Homo sapiens: one gene and its partners. The protein of the gene in region 1 purifies or fractionates together with the protein of each later gene. This does not show direct contact. Each region holds a gene or a part of one and is shown in the gene's direction. Other genes may lie near its edges. The genes, in order: AXL, KIDINS220, PLEKHA1, SEPTIN6, BASP1, SWAP70 and USP6NL.

Region 1 (3,500 bases):
CTCGAGAGGCTGAAGCAGAAGAATTACTTGAGCCCAGGAGGCGGAGGTTGCAGTGAGCCGAGATTGTACCACTGCACTCCAACCTGAGTGACAGAGCAAGACTCTGTCTAAAAAAAAAAAAAAAAAAAAATTAGTCAAGCATGGTTGCTCACGCCTGTAATCCCATCTACTTGGGAGGCCGAGGCATGAGAATTGCCTGAACCTGGGAGGCGGAGATTGCAGTGAGCCGAAATCACGCCACTGCACTCCAGCTCAGGTGATGAAATGAGACTCATAGGCCGGGCACGGTGGCTCACACCTGTAATCCCAGCACTTTGAGAGGCTGAGGCGGGCGGATTGCCTGAGGTCAAGAGTTTGAGACCAGCCTGACTAACATGGTGAAACGCTGTCTCTACTGAAAATACGGCAATTAGTCGGGCGTGGTGGTACGCGTAGTCCCAGCTACTTGGGAGGCTGAGGCAGAAGAATTGCTTGAACCTAGGAGACGGAGGTTGCAGTGAGCCAAGATCTCACCACTGCACTATAGCCTGGGCGACAGAGCAAGACTCCCTCTCCAAAAAAAGGAAAAAAAAAAAAAAAGAAAAAGAAATGAGATGTATAACATGCATAATCTTCAGTGTACCTCTAGATCAAGCTCGTCTAACACATGTGGCCCAGGATGGCTTTGAATGCGGCCCAACATAAGTTCGTAAACTTTCTTAAAACATTATGAGATTTGTTTGTGATTTTTTTTTTTAACGCATCAGCTATCGTTAGTGTTAGCGTATTTTATGTGTGGCCCAAGACAATTCTTCTTCCACTGTGGTCCAAGAAAGTCAAAAGATTGGACACCTTTGAGATTGTTTAACACACATATTCACCATGTAACCACCATCCAAATCAAGACACAGACCCTTCCAGTCCCCAAGAAGTCTCCCTCAGGCCCCAGAGATGGCCACCCTTCTGCTTCTAGAACATTGCTTTTGCCTGTAGTATAATGTCATATAAATGGGGCCTCACAGTATCGTGCTATTATTATGATGATCATTACTATTATTTGAGACAGAGTCTTGCTCTGTTACCCAGGCTGGAGTGCAGTGGTGTGATCTTAGCTCACTGTAACCTCTGCCTCCCAGGTTCAAGTGGTTCTCCTATCGCAGCCTCCCGAGTAGCTGGGATTACAGGCGAGCGCCACCACATCCAGCTAATTTTTTACATTTTTGGAAGAGATGGGGTTTCACCACGTTGGCCAGGCTGGTCTTGAACTCCTAACCTCAAGTGATCGCCCACCTTGGCCTCCCAAAGTGCTGGGATTACAGGCGGGAGCCACCGTGCCCAGTCTATTTGCGTTATTATTGTCATCACACTATTATTATCGGTGCTGACCACCCGCCATGCACTGTGGCATCCTTTGGGCATAACTACACTTAATCTTTAAACAATCCTGTAAGGCACTTGATCCTCTAAGGCCCCGTGTGCCCAAGGAAAAAACTGAGGCTCAGAGAGGGAAGAGTCTTGCCAGAGGTGGCTTTTGGAAGTGGTGACAGAACCACATTGTATACAGCCAAATGATCTCCTTGCTTTGCAAATCCAGGTGCCCGTGTTATCCTAGCATGGCACTGCAACACACACGCACCCTTGAAAAGTTGTGTAGTCACACCAGACCACCACCACTGGGAGCTGTGTGACCATCTCGTGTGATTGCTTGGCTGTCCCGTCCTCACACCCTTGCCTCTCCTCAGGCTGTGCTGTCAGACGATGGGATGGGCATCCAGGCGGGAGAACCAGACCCCCCAGAGGAGCCCCTCACCTCGCAAGCATCCGTGCCCCCCCATCAGCTTCGGCTAGGCAGCCTCCATCCTCACACCCCTTATCACATCCGCGTGGCATGCACCAGCAGCCAGGGCCCCTCATCCTGGACCCACTGGCTTCCTGTGGAGACGCCGGAGGGAGGTAAGAAGGGTTGGGGAGGGACACGTCACCACTGCCCCACCGGACCTTGCTTATATCAGTGCCACCCCCATTGTCCCCTTTCACTCCTTTACCCCTCATGGCCTCAATCTCCTTCCCATCCAATCTCTGACCCCTCAGCAGCACTGCCCGCTGGCCTCTCTCCCAGCCCTTCTCTCCCCTGTGCTTCCTCTCATGGGAGGCCTGCACGAGTTGCCCACGTGTGTGCCCTTGGCACCCTGCACCCACTTCCTGGGAACAGGGGAGGGGGTCAGGAAGAGGTGGGGGTGCCAGCTTCCCCTCTTCCCTGTCCTCCAGTGCCCCTGGGCCCCCCTGAGAACATTAGTGCTACGCGGAATGGGAGCCAGGCCTTCGTGCATTGGCAAGAGCCCCGGGCGCCCCTGCAGGGTACCCTGTTAGGGTACCGGCTGGCGTATCAAGGCCAGGACACCCCAGAGGTGGGTGCTGCTGGTGGGATTGGAGTGGAGTGGCTTGGGGAGGAGGGAGGAGAACATATCAGGGCAGACATAGATGGTTGTGAAGGTTGGGTAGTACACAATTGCTCTATGCCTAGGGGGCACATTCAGGGAAGGTTCACATTCACATTCTGGGGAGAATAAGGGGGTCTAAGGGAGGGCATGGGGAATGGCTGTTTTTGAACCACTGCAAAAGCATTTCAGCAGACTCATATTTACTATATAACGATTTTACAGCAGATAGTTATATAGCACCTTGGGGAAGGGGTACCTTTTCCTGATTTTCACAAAGGCACTCCTATCAGGGCTAGCAATACCCTGACATAGGGAGGGAGGATGGAAAGGGAAGCTAGAAGGGGATGGAGGGATACAGGTTAAAGGATGAGGATGAGAGATGAAGGGGAGGACGAGGAAGGATGAGGAGTTGGAGGATGGGGAGAGCGTTTTGAGAAAGAGATGGGGCATTGAGCCCGAGAGTGAAGGCTTAACAGCTGGGGGGTAAGGTTCTACCCTGATGCCACTTCTGGACCTCCTAGGTGCTAATGGACATAGGGCTAAGGCAAGAGGTGACCCTGGAGCTGCAGGGGGACGGGTCTGTGTCCAATCTGACAGTGTGTGTGGCAGCCTACACTGCTGCTGGGGATGGACCCTGGAGCCTCCCAGTACCCCTGGAGGCCTGGCGCCCAGGTAAGTCCAAAGCCATGCCCAACCTGCTTCAACCCTGTCTCTCCCTGACAGCCCTGACTTACTCCTTGTACCTTTCAGTGTTACCGCAACTTAGGCCCTGTTCCTACCCTGAGCCTTACTGAGAGCTGCCCTCACTCCCTTACCCATGCCAACCCCTCACTCCCTTACCTGTGCCACGGCCTCACTCCTTTACCCGTGCCACACCCTCACTCCCTTACCCGTGCCACACCCTCACTCCCTTACCCGTGCCAAACCTTCACTCCCTTACTCGTGCCACACCCTCACTCCCTTACCCGTGCCACACCCTTACTCCCTTACCCGTGCCACGCCAGTCTTGTCCTCTCTGAGCACATCTCCTCTCTGTCCTTTCTTCTCACAGGGCAAGCACAGCCAGTCCACCAGCTGGGT
Region 2 (3,500 bases), on another chromosome or scaffold:
GAGACAGAGTCTCACTCTGTTGCCCAGGCTGTAGTGCAGTGGTGCGATCCCAGCTTGCTGCAATCTCTGCCTCCTGGGCTCAAGGGATCCTCCCACCTCAGCCTGCCGAGTAGCTGGGACCACAGGCTACACGCCACCACACCTGGCTAATTTTTGTAGATATAGGGTTTCACCATGTTCCCCACACTGGTCTCGAACTCCTGAGCTCAAGCGATCCACCCACCTTGGCCTCCCAAAGTGCTGGGATTATAGGCATGAGCCACTGCACCCAGCCAGATTACTGATTTTATATCTTTCTTCTTTACGAATATATGCATTCAGTGCTATAAATTTTCTTCTCAGCTGTTCTTTTGTTGCGTCCCACAAATTTTGATAAGTTGTGTTTCCATTTTTATTTAGTTCAAAATATTTTAAAATTTCTCTTGAGACTTTTTTCTTTGACCCATGTGTTATTTGGAAGTGTGTTTTTAAATCTCTGCATGTTTTGGGATTTTCCAATTATCGTTCTGTTTTTGACTTCTAGTTTAATTCCACTGAGGGGAAGACATTGTATGCATGATTTCTATTTTAAATTTGTTATGGCGTGTTTTATGGCTCAGAATGTGGTCCATCTTGGTGAATGCTTTATGTGAGTTTGAAAAGAATGTGTATTCTGTTTTTTTTTCTTTTTTTGGATGAAATAAGTGTAGGTGTCAGTTATAGCCAGTTGATTGATGGTGTTGTTGAGCTGAACTGCGTCCTTACTGGTTTTCTGACTGCTGCATCTGTCCTTATAGAATGGTATTGAGGTCTCAAGCTATGATAGTGGATTTATCTATTTCTTCTTGCAGTTCTGTCAGCTTTTGTCTTACATATTTTGATTCTCCTTTCTTAGATATATAAATGTTTAGGATTATTATGTCTCCTTAGAGAATCAGCTCCTTTGTTGTTATGTAATGCCCCCCTTTAATATATATATATTATATATATATAATAATTAATATAGTTACTCCCCCTCTCTTTTGATTGGTGTTGGTATAGCTTTCTCCATTCATTTACTTTTAATCTACGTGTGTCTTTTTATGTAAGGTGGGTTTCTTGTAGATAACATACAATTAGCTCTTATTTTTTGATCATCTCTGACATCTCTTTTAATTGATATCTTTAGAACACTGACGCTCAAAGGGATAATTGGTTTTGATGGATTAATATCTATCGTATTTGTTACTGTTTTCTATTTGTTGCTTGATTTTTGTTCCTATTTTTGTCTTCTACTCTTCTTTTTGTCTTTTATGCTTTTATTGAGCATTTTTTTATGATTCCATTTTCTCACCTTTCTTAGCATATCAGTTGTACTTTTTTTTAAACTGTTTTTTTTGAGTGGTTGCCCTAGGGTTTGCAATATGCATTTATAACTAATCCAAGCCCACTTTCAAGTAATACTATATCACTTCTCAGGTAGTTTATCTTATAATAGCAAAATAATCCTAATTCCTCTCTCCCGTCCCTTGTATCATTGTTGTTACTAATTTCATTTACATTTATAAGCATACATAATATGTACATTATACACACACACACACACCCCCCACCACACACACACACACACACACAGACACACACACACATATATAAGCTTACGTAATCAAGGAGTGGCCACTTCCAAAGTGTTTACATATATGTAGAACCAGAAACCAGCAGTCCTTTTATTTATTTTGAGTTCTATTCCAGATTTTTCCAGTGGAAATACATATTTGGAGTGAGAAACATCATAACAGTAGCATGTTTTTATAAAATAGACTTTTATAAGTTATTCAAAAGAGTTAGCAACTACTGTCTAATAATATAAGTTCCTCTAGAGCCCAGTAAAGATATCTGTTTTTAAAAATAGCAAATTGAACCACCAAAATAAATAATACAGGATTTTCTTTTTCAAAGTGAAAGGTCAGATGCCATCAGGGAGCCAGCAGCAGTGTAGTGCTTTGATCATTTGGATTTGCATCCAGATCTGAATCTTTTCACATTCAGAGCCTCTAATCTTGGCAAGTTAGTCACTCAACCCAGTTTGTTCTTTTTAGAACAGATATGGTAGTGTCTATCCCACAGTGTCATTCTGAGGATCAGCTGCTGTAATTTATGTGTAGTCACTTGGTAAATTGTGAAGCACTCGCTCTTATTTTAAGTGGAAGCACAACTGGCAGCAAGGACTTTGAATGTCTTCTGTTCCTATTAGATGACTTTCTATCACGCTTTCTAAGAAATATGTTTAAGCTTCTTGGATCTTCCTTCAGTGCTTTCTATACCTTCCTTTGCAATACAGGTTCTTAAATGTGAAGTGGAATTGATGGCCAGGATGGCAAAAACCATTGACAGCTTCACTCAGAATCAGACAAGGCTGGTGGTCATCATCGATGGATTAGATGCCTGTGAGCAGGACAAAGTCCTTCAGATGCTGGACACTGTACGTTTGCGCCACCTCAAAAGCCACCATTGTTATGTTGTGGCACTTGAGAGAATGTTTGACTTCACAAATATCTAAAAATAGAACGGAATTGGTTTTTGTTTGAGTAGTTCCTATTTTGTGATTTTTCTTTTGTAAAAACAACCATTCTTTATACAGAAATGTAGCAAGAATAAATGTTTAGTCACAAAGATATTTAAATAATTTTAGCTTAGTGGCACTGTGAGAAAAATGAATAGAGCATCTGTATTCATGAATGTTTCTCATGTGCATTGATTTACCTCTTTAGCAGACTGTAAATGTCTGAAAGAAGGACAATATTAATTTTCTTTGCAGGTTTTATCTATGTCAGATGACAACAAACCTAGATTGAGCTGTCAGTAAAATTTGCTTTTGTGCAGAGTAAGTTTTGATGAAAAGAAATAGTAGTTTAGAAATATTGTCACCAAAAGGTAGCACATATTTTGAAGAGATGCCTTATTCTTTTGGACAATTTAAAATGTATGTCACAACTGTACATTTCTTCTGCCACAGGTCCGAGTTCTGTTTTCAAAAGGCCCGTTCATTGCCATTTTTGCAAGTGATCCACATATTATCATAAAGGCAATTAACCAGAACCTCAATAGTGTGCTTCGGGATTCAAATATAAATGGCCATGACTACATGCGCAACATAGTCCACTTGCCTGTGTTCCTTAATAGTCGTGGACTAAGCAATGCAAGAAAATTTCTCGTAACTTCAGCAACAAATGGAGACGTTCCATGCTCAGATACTACAGGTAAAGCTCAGGCTCCTAAAGTACTTTGAGTTTGAAATAGTTTTGTAGTTTCTTTATGGCGACTCTCCTTTTTACCTTGAAAAATATTGTTGTTGTTTCACATTTCTTTAAATATCATATACAACAGAATTTTGGTGTAAGTGATGCTGTCTTGATAAATTATTTAAGGGATACAGGAAGATGCTGACAGAAGAGTTTCACAGAACAGCCTTGGGGAGATGACAAAACTTGGTAGCAAGACAGCCCTCAATAGACGGGTAAGATGCCATTGGCTTCGAGCTG
Region 3 (3,069 bases), on another chromosome or scaffold:
ACGCCTGTTGATGGGTCTGATCTTGACATTGAAGTGCTCAATTTATGTCTCTGTGTAGTTAAGACCTAGCAAAACCTGGCTTTAAAAAAATGATTTCTAAATTTTTTGGAAACAGTTGCCTTAGAGTGATTTTGTTGATGACAGTATTTTAAGTTATCAAAATAAATACATTGGCTGTATAGAAGTAGGTGATTTTGAGAAAAAATTGTTTGAATGAGTTCTTTTTTCCTTTAGGCTGATAGCCCTGAAGAGATGCACAGTTGGATTAAAGCAGTCTCTGGCGCCATTGTAGCACAGCGGGGTCCCGGCAGATCTGCGTCTTCTGTAGGTTTCCTGCTCTCTGGGGTGATACTCCCTTGCGTCTCCCCCATCCTATCAAATTTCCTCTCTCCCAATCCATCCGGTTTCTTTCTTTCTTGAGATTTATTTGCATGTTGACTTTTATACCAATTGGACTTGCAAAAAATAATGCATTTCTAATTTAATGCTTCCTTGTAGTATTATGTATACATAACTTTCTGTGCATTGTATTGTGTTAAATGCACAAGTAGGGCAACTAAAGAATAAACATTTCCTTGCTTTGTTTTAGGAGTTCTTACTTGTCAGTAGCTCTAGATTTGGCATAATCTGACAGATTCTTAGTATGGTGTGTGATCAGGATCATGTAAGACTTTTAGTTGTAGCGTTACACAGTTTTGTGAACGTCTCAATTTCCTCTTTACTTCCTCTGATTTCAGTTCAGGTTTTTTGGTTTTGTTTTGTTTTTTACCTTTGGCTTAACCATGCCATCAGATCACTGAGCAGCTGGGGCCTTAAATACAGTTCAGTGCTCCCAGTGTTTCCATTTCATGTTTTAATTCTCATTTTAAAACCTGCTTTAACAGCCTGCTTCTGAAAACTACCATAATTATCTTTGTGGTAGTATGATAATAAAATTGAAATACAACTAAACATTCTGCTCAGAAATATTTTTTTAAAAGATTTTTCTTGTGTTCAAGTACATAAGAATTAGATTTGCATTTGGAATACTTTGGCCACTGATCTCAGGTCTGAAAATTTAAAGTATCTTAAAATGTAACACTGCCATCTGCGGAAAGTAGTCTCATATGTAGCATGATAGCCTTTATTATCTAGATTTACTATGACATATATGCTAGTTACTTACACTTTTAATATTTTTTTCTGATAGTATTATAATACCGCCTTTTATTAGTTTTCTGGTAGTGATAACTACAGATAAATAAATAGAAATCAATGTTTCTGATTTCTTAGTTGTTAAGTCATTCTCTCTTTATATCCTTTTTGAAATATCTAAGAAGTCACTTTCATAGATGTTCATTTTGTAACTGCCTGTATTTTATGTGACTTTTTCAGCAGTCAAGTATGAGACTCTCTGCAAAAACAGTGTCTGTTGGGAAGAGGAAAAGTTGGAGAAGGATGTTTGTGTTTTGTGCTTTGTGGTGGGGGCAGATTGGACTATCTAGCTATGACTGTCAGCACAACTTTCTCTTTTCCTCCCTCTACCCAGTATAGGTTAACTCTAATCTTAGCTTTGCACTGTGTTCCAGATGCGGCAGGCCAGAAGGCTGTCGAACCCTTGTATACAGAGGTATACATCAAGAGCTGGTGAATGCAGCACGTATGTGGGCTCTCACGCAAACGTGCCTTCTTAGTGGAGGGCCCAGACTTACTACTTACAACTGATCATAGAAAGTTGAGTTAACCAAACTGCCTTTTGCAGTTATCATAACTGATTTTGTCAATACTAACGCAAACTGTTTCACTGTAGTCATCAGGTTGGATATGTGTATTTAAAAATAAAAAATAAAACATACAACTTTACTAACAGAAAGAGACATTAACATATAAAAATTAATATACTCAACTGCTGCAAGAGTTTCAATTTTATATTATGTATTTAAAAATTTTTAAGATACAATACTTACGAAATGCACCATTGTTCTAATAATATATGCAAACTAATGCATGCATATGCATTGGATAAACTGTACATTACTATAGTTTGCATGGCATTTAAAAATCTCTGAAATTTAGCCATCTAATAGGACTCTGTAGTGTTTTGGTAATTTGTAGCACTTTGATTTCAAAGCCACTGGTATCATAAATGAATATAATATACTAGTATATAGCAATGTATTTAGAATGGTCATATTTAAGGATATTTTCAGATTTGATCTAGTTAGAAGCATATTGAAATTAACATTCTCAACTACTAATTATTTCACCACAGTTTAAAATGTGATAAATGTGTACCCTTTGTTACCTTTAAAATATTAAGCCATATGAATATATGACCTATTCAGAACTAAAATTAAGTAAAAAATGAAAAGACTGTGCTATTATTGGTTGCAGTGAAATTCAGGGAAGTAAAAACTAAGTCTTATCAGCAGAATAATGTTTGAAAGATGATTCGTGCTTATTAAAGAAATATGGCCTTTCATTGTTATAGTCTATATTTTAATTTTTTTCATTCTAAAATATGTGGGATAATTCCTAGTGTTGACTGAGAATATACTCTTAAATAAAATGATACAGCTGGGAGGTTCTCTTTTAAACACAGTTCAGTTGCAGCTGGAACACTGTATTTCAGTTTAGGTTGGCTGAATCTTCAAAGTGTCATAGGCTGCCAAATTCAGCTTTGGTGACGGAACTGGTTTCCTAGTGGAAATGGTTTTTGGCTATCATTGCTTTAAACTCACCTCTAAAAACGCGTTGCTTTGGGAAAGAACTTGCACATTTATGCTGCATGGCTTCTGCTGCTGCCTTTGTGTGTGTGTGTGTGTGTGTGTGTGTGTGTGTGTGTTTTATTTGTTTTTCAGAGAATCAAGTCTCACACTGAGTTACTAACCTGGTCATGAGTGACTGACCGTGTCTGACTGCCACTCCTTTTTGCAGGAGCATCCCCCCGGTCCTTCAGAATCCAAACACGCTTTCCGTCCTACCAACGCAGCCACCGCCACCTCACATTCCACAGCCTCTCGCAGCAACTCTTTGGTCTCAACCTTTACCATGGAGAAGCGAGGATTTTACGAGTCTCTTGCCAAGGTC
Region 4 (3,500 bases), on another chromosome or scaffold:
ACGGACTTTCACTCTTGTTGCCCAGACTGGAGTGCAATGGCACGATCTTGGCTCACCGCAACCTCCGCCTCCTGGGTTCAAGCAATTCTCCTGCCTCAGCCTCCCGAGTAGCTGGGATTATAGGCATGCACTACCATGCCTGGATACTTTTTATTTTTAGTAGAGACGGGGTTTCACCATGTTGGCCAAGCTGGTCTCGAACTCGCAACCTCAGGTGATCTGCCCACCTTGGCCTCCCAAAGTGCTTGGATTAGCAGCATGAGCCACTGCCCCTGGCCTGATATATGTTTATAGTGTGTCAATGGGGACTTGGCGAAAGTGCCAAGGAGAATAGGCTCTGCCTGCTGTTTCATCTTGGCAAGGGCTTTGACCCTTCTGCCCCTGAAAGACTTCAAGGGAGGTGCCTCCACGGTTCAGTCTTTCCTTGACCCAGCGGCTGTGTGATATCAGCCTTCAGAGGCACTCCTAAGCCAAAGCGCAGAGGAAGCAGGATTTTTCTTCCACGTCTGGAGCTCCCAGACTCCCCTTTTAGAGTCCGGGGCCTGAGTGCCACCTATGCCCCTCCCCCACCCCCCGTTGGAGTCTACTGGCAGGAATGATTATGCTCTCCATGTCAACCTGAACTTAGTGTGCTCTGTCTCACAAACACATGTGCATTTCAAGTTTCTTTACCTTCTGACAGTAAAAGCCTTGTCCCTTCTTGGAGGAATTTCAAGGATTAGGGTTCAGGTGGATTGAACTTTTGGTTGGGATTAGTTCTTTCTCCTGATGCCTGAAATTGGGCATTTATACTTGCTTTTCTTACTCAGAAATTAATCATGAGACTCAGGCAGTATAATTCTTTTTGCATAAGTCTCAGATCAAATTGTAACTATAGGTTCTTCCTCACCTAACTGAGTTGATTATTCAGTGTCTCCTGCCAGAAAGAGAGCCAGGTGTGCATCCTCACTGAGCACTGTCCCTGCCTCCTTTCCCTGCCATCTCTCATGTGGGTCCATATCACACCCGGCTTGGGCTAGACTAGACCCGATGGGTTGGGACAATTTACTCTTAGCAAGAAGAGGCCACCTCTCCCCTGTCAGCCACAGATTCCCAGCTATCACCTTTCTGCTTCAAGTCTCCCAAGCAGTAACCTTGATACCAAGATAACATACAGCTCATCAACTTGGATCTGAACTGGTAGACAGCTCATGCTTAAGACTATGGACTTAGGAATAAGGCTGAGTTTGGATTTGAATCCCAGTTCTCCTACTTACCTGCTCCATGGCCTTGGACAAGTTACTTAACCTCCCTATGCCTTAATTTCTCATTGGCAAAATAGTAGTAATAATACCTCCTGGAAGGGTTATTGTCAGGATTAATTGTGCTAATTCATGTAAAGCACTTAGTTCAGTGCCCAGCACATAGTTAGTACTTGTCGTTTATTATATTGTCATTTGGCTACAGAAGTGGCCAGTCTTTGACCACTGGGCTGAGCGGCTCCCTCTGGCAGCTGGTGGAAGTCCTAGGTCATGCTGCTATCAGTTGCAGGTTACCAACAATGACCCCACTTTGCCCCTCCTCTCCCTAGGTGAACATCATCCCCATCATTGCCAAAGCAGATGCCATTTCGAAGAGTGAGCTAACAAAGTTCAAAATCAAAATCACCAGCGAGCTTGTCAGCAACGGAGTCCAGATCTATCAGTTTCCTACAGATGATGAGTCGGTGGCAGAGATCAATGGAACCATGAACGTGAGTGGGAGCAATTTCCTGACCATTTGCTTTTTATGATGATTATCATTATTTTAATGTGCTTTAGAGACAGGGTCTTGCTCTGTTGCCCAGGCTGGAGTGCAGTGGTGTGATCACAACTCACTGCAGCCTTGAACTCCTGGGCTCAAGGGATCCTCCCGCCTTAGCCTCCCAAGTAGCTGGGATTACAGGTGCACTCACCACACCTGGCTAATGTTTTAATGTTTTGTAGAGACGGGGTCTTGCTATGTTGCTCAGGCTGGTCTTGAACCCCTGGGCTCAAGCGATCCTCCTGCCTCAGCCTCCCAAAGTACTGGGATTACAAGTGTGAGCCACCACGCTGACCCCTTTATTATTATTATTATTTTACCAAATAGCAGCAAAACATCTTCACCATCCATCTTAGTGTAGTCAACTCTTTTTTTCTTTTACTTTTTTTTTTTTTTTTTAAGACAGGATCTCATTCCATTGCCCAGGCTAGAGTACAGTGGCACAATCTCGGCTCACTGCAACCGAGATATGTTATTTTTAAATATCAGGGTTGGCTGGGCATGGTGTCTCACGCCTGTAATCCTAGCACTTTTGGAGGCCGAGGCGGGTAGATCACCTGAGGTCGGGAGTTTGAGACCAACCTGGCCAACATGGCAAAACCCCGTCTCTACTAAAAAATACAAAAATTAGCCAGGCGTGGTGGTGTGCGCCTATAATCCCAGCTACTCTGGAGGCTAAGGCAGAGGTTGCAGTGAGCCAAGATTACGCCATTGCACTCCAGCCTGGGCGACAGAGTGAGACTCCATCTCAAAAAAAAAAAAAAAAAAAAAAAAATCAGCGTTATGCTTTGCTTTATTAAGTGTGAATGAATAATAATAATAAAAAACCTTGCCATCTTTCCTCTCCTCCCCCACTTTCTCCTACTAGAGAAATGAGTAATAAAGAAGGCAGAGATGCAAACATCTCCTAATGCTTCCTTACAATGTGTTGCTGTTGCTGTGAAATCTTCAATGTTGTGATTTCAAGGAGACAGCTAATAGCTTTCAGAAAGCCTCCGCTTTAGGAACAGATTTCTTTTTCTCTATTGAGTGTCATCAGTTTTTCCTAATGACATAATGCCTGGGTATAGCCAAACTCAGGAAAGCCTTGTAATAAAAGCCATTTTTAGAAAACTTTCCTGCTGCCACTGCCCTCTAAGTTATCATTACAACTTCAGCTGCCACCTCCTATGAATTGGCCAACAAATTAGCATAGCAGGGCAGCAAGTCATTGTCTCTCCTGACTTCCTGTCCATCAGTACACCCGAGATGTGTTTGTTATCACCATCACCATCTTAGACAAATCTGGCTCAAGGGTAAGGCTATCTGGAGCATGGTAGGTAGAGATAGGTCTTCTCTGACCGGCCGTGGGCATGGAAAAAATAAAAAAGATTAGCACTTGTCCTCTCGAGAAGTCAGGGCATTTTGATGGAAACTAGGCTCTGTTATGAAGAGACAGCCTAGTCTGCAGAAAAACGGGAGCCTCGCGAGAAGTGTCATCTGGGTGCCACGGGCACTGATGTCTGGAAGCGTCTAGTCACCTCAGGACATCAGTCCCCATAGAGACCTTCTGAACACTGATGCCCTAAGTCATCAAGCAGCTTGCAGGCTTGTGGTTTGCTTTGCTAAGAATAAATAGGGACTGAGAGTACTCAGCCATCTCAAGGTGTCACACAGAACCACATCTTGGTACCTCATGGATTAGGAGTGATAATCATCCTGGGCTCTGTTCTCAGCTC
Region 5 (3,500 bases), on another chromosome or scaffold:
TATAAGGTGGAAGGGAATAAAACTAGTCACAAGATAGTTGTGGGGGATTTTAAAGATGTAAGTTAGTATCTCTATTAAGCTATTTGACATATGATAAACAAACAGTATTCTTCTGCAGGAAGTAGCAAAACAAAATGACATTTGACAATGTTAGCTTCTCTCATTAACATGGTGTGTTTAGCTTATTAGCCAAGATAAGCTGTAGACCAGGTTTTTACCCTTTACACGTGAAATTTGAGGCATTAAATGAGTAAAAGAATTGGGATTCCTTTTCCATCTTGGTGATCAAAACACTTTTCTCTTGTTTCCTTGGACCAAGTGATGAAGAGGTGGTGAGGGGACAGCAAAAAATGCAATTACATTTCTTCTCTTTATTTTTATTTTTTGAGACAAGAGTTTTGCTCTTGTTGCCCAGGGTGGAGTGCAATTGTGCGATCTCGGCTCACCGCAACCTCCACTTCCCAGGTTCAAGCGATTCTCCTGCCTCAGCCTCCTGAGTAGCTGGGATTACAGGCATGCACCACCACATCTGGCTAATTTTGTATTTTTAGTAGAGACGGGGTTTCTCCATGTTGGTCAGGCTGGTCTTCAACTCTTGACCTCAGATGATCTGCCCGCCTCGGCCTCCCAAAGTGCTAGGATTACAGGTGTGAGCCACCACACACAGCCCCCTCTTCTCTTTCTCTGATCACTCCAATACTCGTTCTAATTGGGAGGAATGGATTTAACTAATCTTTGGTTTTTATCTCTGTGTAGAAACTGATTTCTTGGCAGAATGGACTGTTAATATATTTAAAAAGACTGAAAACCTCTTAGAATCTTAAGTAGTAAAATATTCAGAGCGAAGAAGTAGAGATTTTACCTTTACAATATGGTGACAACAGATAACTGTAAAAACTTCTTTTTCAAATAGAACCAGCAGGAGCATGCATGGAACACATATACCAAACATCTTTCTGATAACATTAAACATTTTTAAAAGATGTTAAATGTTCTTTTCATTGTGGTGCTTCAGATTCCTGATTCTAGAACTTGTGTGTGTGGAACCTGTGTGCTAACTATTCTGTTGGAATTTACCAGCAAAGAATTATCTAAGAATTTTCAAACTAAATGATGGGGGAAGGAACTAACATTTTTGCAGTCCCTGGAAATGTAAAATGTTGTACTCACATGGCCTCACATTAAATTCCCATTAAATTGACATTTAAAAAAATTTTTTTATTTTAAAGGAAACGGAAGGACGATGAGATTAAATAACTTGCCCAAGGATTCTGGGTGGGTGTGCTGTGGAGGTGGGATTTTTATACTCTGCCATGACCCAATGTGCAAAGTCTCCTTGAAATTCAATTCTTGTCCAATATTTACCAGATTAAACTCAGTGAAATTCCTCTCTCTACTACTGTTTATGGTTATTTTCTATGCCAATATTAATCGGTAAGCCTGTCATTTTCGCCCTTGTGGCATCGAGTTTTCTTTGAAGGACAGCTTTTTTGTTTGCTTTTTGTTTTTTGTTTTGCTTTGTTTTGTTTTGAGGCAGGGTCTCACTCTGCCCAGGCCATAGTGCAGTGGCTGATCTCGGCTCACTGCAACCTCTGCCTCCCAGGCTCAAGCCTCCCCAGTAGCTGGGATGATAGGTGTGCACCACCACGCCTGGCTAATTTTTGTAATTTTTGTAGAGACGGGGTTTTGCCATGTTGGCCAGGTTGATCTTGAACTCCTGACCTCAAGTGATCCACCCACCTCGGCCTCCCAAAGTGCTGGGATTACAGGTGTGAGCCACCACACCCGGTCTTTAAAGGACAGCTCCAGAATTAGCTTTTTTCTGAGATGTCATAACAGAGGTCAGTTTTAGTGTTTGGTTAATACATAAACACATAGAACTGAGGTCAGTGCCTTCAGCATTGGTCTGAATTTTGTTGCTGTGCTACAAAATTCTAGTGAATTTCCTAGTTGTGGAGAAATGCAAAGTCAGTCTCGGCCTTTTCAGTAGAGCTTTGGTTTAGTGACTTTTTTAGTTGAAGTGACTTTTCAGCATGGATTGTCTATTGCTGTATTTTTTTAACTGCTTTATTTTAATCTTAGAAGTTCCAACTTCTAACTTTCTATACCAAATGATGTCTTTCAAAATTAGAAGTAACAGAAATGAATGAAATCGGCTGGGCATGGTGGCTCACGCCTGTAATCCCAGCATTTCGGGAGGCCGAAGTGGGCAGATCACCTGAGGTCAGGAGTTCAAGACCAGCCTGGCCAACATGGTGAAACCTCATCTGTGCTAAAAATACTAAAATTAGCTGGGCATGGTGGCAGGCTCCTGTAATCTCAGCTACTCGGGAGGCTGGGCAGGAGAATTGCTTGAACCTGGGAGGCGGAGGTTGCAGTGAGCCGAGATTGTGCTGCTGCTGCACTCCAGCCTAGGTGACAGACTGAGACTGCATTTCAAGAAAAAAAAAAAAAAAAAGAAAGAAAAGAAAAAGAATGAAATCATTAAACTGTATGCTCATTGCTTTCTCTTGGTAAAAAGCTTCTCTGGCAAATAGGAAGATGAAATGTTGAGAGGCAGAGGATACTCAAAATACTGAATTTCTTCCTTATTCCCTCAACACCTGAGTTCTGAACTACCCCAGGTGGCACCATCCTTGTAACCCAGGCGCATAACATTCCTGGGCTGAGAGCTTTGCCCCATTGCCGGCTTCTCAGTGGAGTTCCTTCTATCCCCTCTGTGGTGCCTTCCTGCCTTACTGAATTTTGCTGGACTTGGCCTTTGCTCATAGTACAGCTCCACGAACTCAGCTAGTAGGATTTCCTTATGGGTAAAAGGAGAATGTGAATGGCATACTACCCCATGGTGCTGTTGAGATTACATATTTTATGTAATATATTTATGAGTAGGATTGTGCTTGATACCTAGGAAACAGTTAATAGATGTTGTAGGCAAGGTCTTCACGCATATGGTCTTGGGAAATAATGAGACAATCCTGCTTTTCGAGGGTTCAGGTGGGTCCTATGAGCGTCCCTCTGATACCTCAATATAACCAGTAGAGGTAAATTAGCAAAATGCCAGGGGCGTTTGTTAACTTTGTTTGAAAAACAAACTGGATTGAGACATATTTTCTTACTTATAACTTGATTACGTGTGTTCATTTTCGACCCAGAAACAAATCGCAGCTGGGCATAAAACAAAGAATAGAATGTGGCCTTAACTATGTGTCAGAAAAGCCAGTTTTAGTAACTCAGATTTTAGGTTTGTAACCCAACATGACTTTAAACCTCTGGGGATTGCTGTATAGAATTTCATGCTGTGGGTGTCAGAAAGCAGCACCCCATGTTATACTTACTGGACCCCCTATGTTTGCACTTTATCTTAGTGTCTGTAATTTCTAAGTTGGTGTATGGGTTTCTATTACTGGATTGAGAGAAGATCCTAAAGGCAGACCTGTTAGGTTTCCTGTTTCTTATTTAGCTCAACCTAAGGGACCCAATGTATTTTGAAATATCAGAGC
Region 6 (3,500 bases), on another chromosome or scaffold:
TGATAGGGAGCCAGGGCAGGGCTTAAAGAGGGGAGGGTCAGGCTCTGGCTTTTGTTTTAGAAAAATCCCTCTGGCAGAATATGTATAAAAGGTGGCGACCTGGAGGTACAGATACCAACCAGGAGGCCCGACCAAAAGCAGATCAAATAGGAGTGACAGAGTTCAGAGCTGCCTGGGACAAAGTTTTAAATTTTATTTTCACTGCAACCCATAGGAAGATAAACATTTTATATCATGACCCAGCACACACACACACTCAAAGCAAAACTTATCACAAAACACTATTTCTTTATTGTGGATGAACTCACATGTTTTTCATTCCATTAAAAAAAAATGCTGGTTGCTGCCCACTAAGTTGACTTCATAGTGGGCCATAACCCACAGTTTTCAAACTTATTAGGGAGCTCATTTAGGGAAATAAAACAGCAGGATTATATCCTTGGTTTGATGTGGGGGTTGGGGAGCAAGAATCCTGACATGGATGTGTGAATGGTGTTATTCCTAATGGAAATCAATAATACAGCGGGGAAGCCATTTGGAAAGTAGAGAGGATTCATTCATTTTTGGACATATGTTGAGTTTGAGAGCACTGTATAGGATATTTGGGCTTTCCAGAAAATAAGAGGTATCAATTCTCATTCAGTTTTACTGCCTTATTGTTTTGTTTAACTGCTGTTATTTCTTTCCTTCTTTACTTTTTTTTTTTTTTTTTTTTGAAACAAGAGTCTTGCTCTTGCCCAGGCTGGAGTGCAGTGGCACAATCGCCGCTCACTGCAACCTCTGTCTTCAAGGTTCAAACGATTCTCATGCCTCAGCCACCTGAGTAGCTGGGATTACAGGTGTGCGCCACATGCCTGGCTAACTTTTTTGTATTTTTAGTAGAGACAGGGTTTCGCCATGTTGGCCAGGCTGGTCTTGAACTCCATGCCTCAAGTGATCCTCCTGCCTTGGCCTCCCAAAGTGTTGGGATTATAGGCATGAGCCACTGCTCCTGGCCTAACTGCTATTATTTCAATAGCAGTATTTTCTACACAAAGTATGATGTTTTAGGATTTAGTAAGCTTTTCCTGCTCATGCTAGGTATTCCACCATTATTTACAACATTGTAGTGTTCCAGTGGGAGGAAGCAGCATGAATTTTAAATAATTGGCTTATGTGGAAAGTTTGTAAATTGATCAATAACTTGTACATATTACTTTGAGATGTTTAATTTAGCGCTTGTTTGTTGAGTAAGACTAATGTTCTGATATATTGAAATATTTAACAGCGAGTAATCAGATCACATTAATTAGTTTGTATGCTGTCATATATCTGCAGTTTGTTTTAGTTCTGCAGACAAATATACTACACTATTAGAGGGTTATCAGTTTTTGATTCCTTTACTTATTCTGCACTAATACAGACCAGTGGCATTTTATTTATACTTCTCTCCCTGTATTTTAGGAGACTCTAAAGGTAGGCATTTTTGGAACTGTAAAGAGTATTTCCTAAGTTGAACTTATCAGTGTTTATAACATAAATACATAACTATGTTAAAGTTTTTTTTAACTAGGAAATAATTATTTCACATTCTTTATGTAGATTGAATACCTGCTTAAGAAGCTTACAGAAGCTATGGGAGGAGGTTGGCAGCAAGAACAATTTGAACATTATAAAATCAACTTTGATGACAGTAAAAATGGCCTTTCTGCATGGGAACTTATTGAGCTTATTGGAAATGGACAGTTTAGCAAAGGCATGGACCGGCAGACTGTGTCTATGGCAATTAATGAAGTCTTTAATGAACTTATATTAGATGTGTTAAAGCAGGTAAGAATTCTGTTACTGTTTTTTTTTCTCATCTTTAGAATTTGACATTTTAAAATTAATATTTTTGTCACAAAGATGAGTATAAGTCACTTATTTTCTTACACTGATTTCGTTTTTTTATTTTTTGTTTTTTTGAGACAGTCTTGCTCTGTCGCCCAGTCTGGAGTGCAGTGACGTGATCTTGGCTTACTGCAACCTCCATCTCCTGGGTTCAAGGGATTCTCTTGCCTTGAAGGCATGCACCCCCATGCCCAGCTAATTTTTGTATATTTAGTAGAGATGGGGTTTTACCATGTTGGCCAGGCTGGTCTCGAATGCCTGACCTCAAGTGATCCACCCACGTCGGCCTCCCAAAGTGCTGGGATTACAGGTGTGACCCACTGGGCCTGGCCTGATTTTGAATAGGAATAAAATTTCTTATTTTTCCAGTCTTGTATTAGGCTTTCATTAAAAAAAATTATTTGTGCGATTTTAAAGTACAGTTAAGAATACAGTTAAAATATATATATATATTTTGGCTGGACGTGGTGGCTCATGCCTGTAATCCCAGCACTTTGGGAGGCTGAGGCGGGTGGATCACCAGGTCAGGAGCTCAAGACCATCCTGGCCAGCATGTTGAAACCCTGTCTGTATTAAAAATACAAAATATATATATATATATATATATATATATATATATATATATTTTTTTTTTTTTTTTTTTCCAAGACGGAATTTCACGCTGTCACCAGGCTGGAGTGCAGTGGCATGATCTTGGCTCACTGCAACCTCCGCCTCCCGGGTTCAAACAATTCTCCCGCCTCAGCCTTTTGAGTAGCTGGGACTACAGGTGTGCGCCACCACGTCCAGCTAGCTTTTGTATTTTTAGTAGAGATGGGATTTCACCAGGTTGGCCAGGACGGTCTCGATCTTTTGACCTTGTGATCCACCAGCCTTGGCCTCCCAAAGTGTTGGCATTACAGGCGTGAACCGCCGCGCCCAGGCCATTTCCAAAATATTTTATTTTGGAAATTCATAACCACTGATCCAGAAAGATCTCCATGGCATAACGTTGAGTGAAAAAAAACCACATTGCTGAACAGGAGATATCTTGTAATCCCCTTCAGGTAATGTTATGCATGTGTGTAGAGCTGTCAGGAAGGTGCTTGCTAAAATGTTTACAGTGATCACCTCTAGATTGTGGGATTTTGGTGAATTTTTTTCTTCTTTATTCCTTTCTGTATTATTGGACTTTCTATATGATTTTATATTATTTTTATAAAATCAGAAAAATACCTCTACTTGTGGAAAAAAAAATACCTTTATGTAGCAAAGTTGCTTTTGTCTTATTTAGACTGTCCTCTTTTTCTCAGCACCCAGCATAGCAGATGAAGCTCGATGCTTGTTAAATACAATTTATATTTTTTTGGTGATTCTTTGAAACTTCTTACATTATTATATTGAATAATAACTGATTTGGGATTTCCTTACTTTGATCCTTTCTTTCTTCCATAGGTAATAGTGTTGTCTTTGTTCTTTTTTTTCCTAATGGAGCACATCATAAATGTTGAGGCTGAATTTGTATAGGTTTTTGGTGCTACAAAGAGGTATGAGACGTGGTCTCCATCTGAAGTGGAATTCTCAGCCTCTTAGGATGGCAGGATATGACTGTAGTAGAATTGCCGTATGAGATAGCTTTTGCTTAAATGTCC
Region 7 (4,107 bases), on another chromosome or scaffold:
AGAACAGGTTTGTAGCCTAGGAGCAATAAGTCACACCTTATAGCCTAGGTGTGTAGGAGGCTCTACTATCTAGGTTTGTGTAAATATACTCTATGATGTTCGCACAATCACGAAATTGCCTAAGGATGAATTTCTCAGACTGTATTGCTGGGTATCCCTGTCGTTAAGATTACCACACTTGAGAGCTAGAAGGAGCCTTAGAGACCAAACCTAATCTGAGTCACAGTTCTCAAAGTTTGGGTGCTAGCAAAGAGCCTGTGACCCTGCCTCCTCCTTCCACCCCTTCTGTGAGATATTGGGCGCAGCATTCAGTTTCTTCGTGTCAGTTTTCACCAGCTGGAAAAGAGAGATAAAAGGCACAGTGCAGGGTTGCCAGGTTCAGTAATTCTAGTTCCTGGAATCAAGGACAGGAAGCCTTTTGGTTACTTGTACACCCTAACTTTTCTAGCTTCGATTGAATCAATCATTTAACTGTCAGCTAATTACGGCTTTGGGAAGTTTACATCATTCATCTTTTTATGGCACCCCTTAATGGGAGGCTTTGGAGATTAAAACTCTTGACAATTTCCACGATGTAAAAAAGGAAAGTTGACCTACAGAAAGATGGGACAGTGATGAACATTTGAGAAGCTTGAAGCAGCAATGGGATCTACACAGTAGCCTACTTAAAGTAGTGCTGATGTGAACGCTTAGCCTAAGTTCCTGAAAAATGACAGCAGTGTCACCTATGTCAGTAGCAATGGCATTTTATTGAGCTTTGCACTTACTACCAAGCACTCGCTTGTTCCAGGACAGCCCCATGAGGCAGGTCCTATTATCATTCCACTTTACAGATGAAGAAACTGAGGCACAGGGAAAAGTGTCCAAGGGCTGACACCTGGTAAGTAGTTGAGGCAGAAATGAAAAAAAAAAAAAAGCCAGGCTGGCTCCGGAGACCATCCTCTCGCCCCCTACTCAGCTGACCTCCCTACGTCTCTGCTATCCTCTGACCTGCCGGCTGGACACGCCAATGTCGCTCGTTTGCGTGCCCCGAAGCCCCGCTTTGGGTCCTGGGCTTCCAGCGCCCGCTTCCCGCCGAGGGGCTCCGGGCACCTGCAGCCCTGGGCGCGCGTCCCCGAGGCGGGCGGGAGCGCGCACGGCGGGAGTGCGGGAGCGGAGCGCACGTGCCGCCGGGAAGGGGCCGCGCCAATATGGCGGCGGCTGCGGCCGCTGCGGTGACGGTTGGCGGCGGCCGGTGAGGCGGGCGGGGCCGGAGGCGCGGAGGCGGGGTCCCGGGCGAGCCGCCCTGGGAGGCGGGGGCCGTTTCCATAGCGGCGGCAGGAGGTGTCGCGCCGGGGAACTTCCTGGTTCCCGGGCTCGGCTTCGCCGGGATCCTCTTGGAAGGGAAACAATGGGGCGGAGGGCACTGCGGTAGCCGCCGCCGCCGCCGCGCCGCGCCGCGCCGGATCTGCTCGGCCGCCCGGGACCGCCAGCTCTGTCCGCTGCCCACAGCCTAGCAGTCGGGACCGTACTGAGGTAACTTCCATTCCTCAGCTCCCGCCGTGAGGGGCCGGCGGCGGCGGGCTCCGCGGGCGTCCTCCCCGGGCCGGGACTCGGAGTTGGCCCCGGGGAGCCGGACGCCGCCATTCCCGGCCCCTGGAGGAGGGGACGCGGCTGCGGTTCGCGGCTCGGCCCTGGGGGGCGGCTCGGGCACAGTGCGGGGGCTGCCTGTGTGTCCCCGCGCCCGGAGCGTGGGGTCCGCGGGGCGATGGGCGGGCTGGGGGCGCCGCGCGGGGTGCGGGGAGGCCCGGGGGTGGAACCCGGCGACTGCCTCCCCGAGTGAGCCGCGATCCCGGCCAGGCGCGTCTCCCTCGCAAGTTTCGGTCGCGTCTCCCGAGCCCCAGTGGGCAGGACCCGGGCAAACTTCGTGCCTTTAAATGACTGCCTTGATGCCGCGGAACTTTGTTTGGACCAGGCGAGGGGAGGATGGGGCGAATGAGAGATCTGCAAGTCTTGGAAATCCGTGCGCCTTTGCAAAGTTTGCAAAATAGTTTGGCGCTCACAACCCTAGGCTGGTGCGGCATTTGTAATGCGTGAAAACGGTTCCTCGCAGGTGTTTTACTGCTAGAAAATGCGGGACGCGTAGGAATCCATGGGTGCACGTTTCTGTAATTTGAAAATGTTGTCTCTCCCCACCCCCAACCCTTATCCCTTTCTTTCCCAACATTTAATCCGCAGATAGATGCTTTTTAGACCGTAGACTTCAGCATGCCTTCTTTGGACTGGGAAGGCTTGTTGAATTAGGGCCGTACCCAGTGATTGGAAATAGTGCGAGACGAATGGAAAAAAAAAAAAAAAGTGAGGACGCCGTCTTAAGTATGTTGCTTGTTGAAAGAAAATGGTTTCAATCCTGTATTAATCCTTTTATAAAAATAATTACACCTTTGGGATAGATATTTAATATTTCATAGCTTAGAAAAGTTACACAGAACTTTAGAGATCACCCTGGCCAACTCCCTCCTATATTGAGTCTCTGGCAAGTTCCTTCAGGGGGAAGTCAGTGTTCTTTTTTCTTTCCTGAAGTCATCTGAATAAGAATAAATTAGCCAGCAGCAAGTGAACAGTGGTTTATTTGCTTTTATTTCTGGTTCAGTCAGACCCTAAAATTAACAAAAATATTTCCTGGTTTGCCATTCTTTTATAACAACATTTGTAAACATAGTGTAGTTCATTACTTAAAATGGATGTTGATGCCATGTTGTATTCTACGTAGACAATTAAAATGTCCAAATAGAAAAAAAATTATACTAATAAAAGTATAAGTTAACTTTTAAAGGAAGAAATCCTAATTGCAAGTACAGGTATCCTTAGTTAACAGAAATTCCTTTGCTGATTATATATATATAGAGAATTAATGAGTTGTTACAAAGGCACTCAAAGAAACATCCTTTGCCAAATATTAAGAATTTGGGCCCTGAGCCTCAGTTTTGGTGCCTACTTAGTTTTTAGCTATGCAGCCAGACTCTTTGTTGTACTTGTTTCTGGTAAGACTAGTCCATTACCAGTTTTAATAATGTTTTGACATGCAAATAGCTCCTACTGGGGACTGACTTTGGTTAAACAAGCCAGTAAGTGAAAGTGTCAGATTTGGCACTGTTAGGTGATTGATCATCCTCTGGCGTTATAGGGAACCAAGAGAACTACTCACCCCAGCAGATCCAACCTGAGTCTCCAATGCCAAGCAAGGGTTGCCTTGGTCCATCTTTGCCACCATGTGCCCATGTGTGTCAAGTCCTTGTTACATTTTGTAGCCAGCTAAGATGGGTGAAAAAGAGGCCAATGAGTTCAAGCTAGTAGCAAACTGAAAACAAACAAAATTACTCTGATTAGAAAGTGTGAGGAATGTTAATGTAGTAGAATAGGATAGCTTTGGGAATTGCCACTTGAGGTAGCGAGAACGAGACAAGTGATTACAATTCTGGTTTATGTTCACAATTTCACTGTAACGATTTTTTTTAACCATTCTTACTTTGTAACTAGTGCAATGCAGACCTCTAATTACCAGAAAGTTATAGTTTGTTCCTTCAATGTGATTTTTGAAAAGCATAGACTGGCGGGTTGCAGTGGCTCATGCCTGTAATCTCAGCACTTTGGGAGGCCGAGGCAGATGAATCATTTGAGGTCAGGGGTTCAAGACCAGCCTGGCTAACATGCTGAAACCCCCGTTCCTACTAAAAATACAAAGATTAGCTGGGCGGTAGTGGTGCACTGCTGTAATCCCAGCTACCCGGGAGGCTGAGACAGGAGAATCCTTTGAGTCTGGGAGGTAGAGGTTGCAGTGAGCGGAGATCGCTCCACTGCACTCCAACCTGGGCCACAGAGTGAGACTCTGTCTCAAATAAAAAAAGAAAAGAAAAGAAAAGAAAAGCATAGTCCATTGTCAGATATGATTTCATTATATTGAGAGACTCATTTTTCCCTTGAACAGATGACTCCTGTATTTACAGTGGAAGTCACTGTAAGAATAATAATTGAAAAGAAATCCAACTTGTAGCACACGTCCATGTAGTACATGAGATTTAAGCATGGGAATTGGAGCGACAGAGACTTGGATTCTCAACTGGTCTA

What was found.
Region 2: the proteins of AXL (region 1) and KIDINS220 purify together in Homo sapiens (affinity purification with mass spectrometry; one large-scale study listed by BioGRID and IntAct). This does not show direct contact.
Region 3: the proteins of AXL (region 1) and PLEKHA1 purify together in Homo sapiens (affinity purification with mass spectrometry; one large-scale study listed by BioGRID and IntAct). This does not show direct contact.
Region 4: the proteins of AXL (region 1) and SEPTIN6 purify together in Homo sapiens (affinity purification with mass spectrometry; one large-scale study listed by BioGRID and IntAct). This does not show direct contact.
Region 5: the proteins of AXL (region 1) and BASP1 purify together in Homo sapiens (affinity purification with mass spectrometry; one large-scale study listed by BioGRID and IntAct). This does not show direct contact.
Region 6: the proteins of AXL (region 1) and SWAP70 purify together in Homo sapiens (affinity purification with mass spectrometry; one large-scale study listed by BioGRID and IntAct). This does not show direct contact.
Region 7: the proteins of AXL (region 1) and USP6NL purify together in Homo sapiens (affinity purification with mass spectrometry; one large-scale study listed by BioGRID and IntAct). This does not show direct contact.

What each region holds. Positions count from the first base shown.
Region 1 is NC_000019.10:41,236,223-41,239,722, forward strand, and holds part of AXL (tyrosine-protein kinase receptor UFO isoform 1 precursor), read left to right. Parts: intron 1-1,721; coding exon 1,722-1,932; intron 1,933-2,247; coding exon 2,248-2,387; intron 2,388-2,941; coding exon 2,942-3,092; intron 3,093-3,471; coding exon 3,472-3,498; intron 3,499-3,500. UniProt on the Homo sapiens protein: Receptor tyrosine kinase that transduces signals from the extracellular matrix into the cytoplasm by binding growth factor GAS6 and which is thus regulating many physiological processes including cell survival, cell proliferation, migration and differentiation.
Region 2 is NC_000002.12:8,778,614-8,782,113, reverse strand, and holds part of KIDINS220 (kinase D-interacting substrate of 220 kDa), read left to right. Parts: intron 1-2,299; coding exon 2,300-2,440; intron 2,441-2,974; coding exon 2,975-3,218; intron 3,219-3,386; coding exon 3,387-3,475; intron 3,476-3,500. UniProt on the Homo sapiens protein: Promotes a prolonged MAP-kinase signaling by neurotrophins through activation of a Rap1-dependent mechanism. Provides a docking site for the CRKL-C3G complex, resulting in Rap1-dependent sustained ERK activation.
Region 3 is NC_000010.11:122,426,708-122,429,776, forward strand, and holds part of PLEKHA1 (pleckstrin homology domain-containing family A member 1), read left to right. Parts: intron 1-234; coding exon 235-324; intron 325-1,374; coding exon of another isoform or gene 1,375-1,439; intron 1,440-1,550; coding exon of another isoform or gene 1,551-1,673; exon of another isoform or gene 1,674-1,713; intron 1,714-2,916; coding exon 2,917-3,069. UniProt on the Homo sapiens protein: Binds specifically to phosphatidylinositol 3,4-diphosphate (PtdIns3,4P2), but not to other phosphoinositides. May recruit other proteins to the plasma membrane.
Region 4 is NC_000023.11:119,648,169-119,651,668, reverse strand, and holds part of SEPTIN6 (septin-6), read left to right. Parts: intron 1-1,570; coding exon 1,571-1,732; intron 1,733-3,500. UniProt on the Homo sapiens protein: Filament-forming cytoskeletal GTPase. Required for normal organization of the actin cytoskeleton. Involved in cytokinesis. May play a role in HCV RNA replication.
Region 5 is NC_000005.10:17,269,631-17,273,130, forward strand, and holds part of BASP1 (brain acid soluble protein 1), read left to right. Parts: intron 1-3,500.
Region 6 is NC_000011.10:9,723,077-9,726,576, forward strand, and holds part of SWAP70 (switch-associated protein 70), read left to right. Parts: intron 1-1,581; coding exon 1,582-1,809; intron 1,810-3,500.
Region 7 is NC_000010.11:11,608,851-11,612,957, reverse strand, and holds the start of USP6NL (USP6 N-terminal-like protein), read left to right. Parts: upstream 1-1,307; 5' UTR 1,308-1,515; exon of another isoform or gene 1,516-1,657; intron 1,658-4,107. UniProt on the Homo sapiens protein: Acts as a GTPase-activating protein for RAB5A and RAB43. Involved in receptor trafficking. In complex with EPS8 inhibits internalization of EGFR. Involved in retrograde transport from the endocytic pathway to the Golgi apparatus.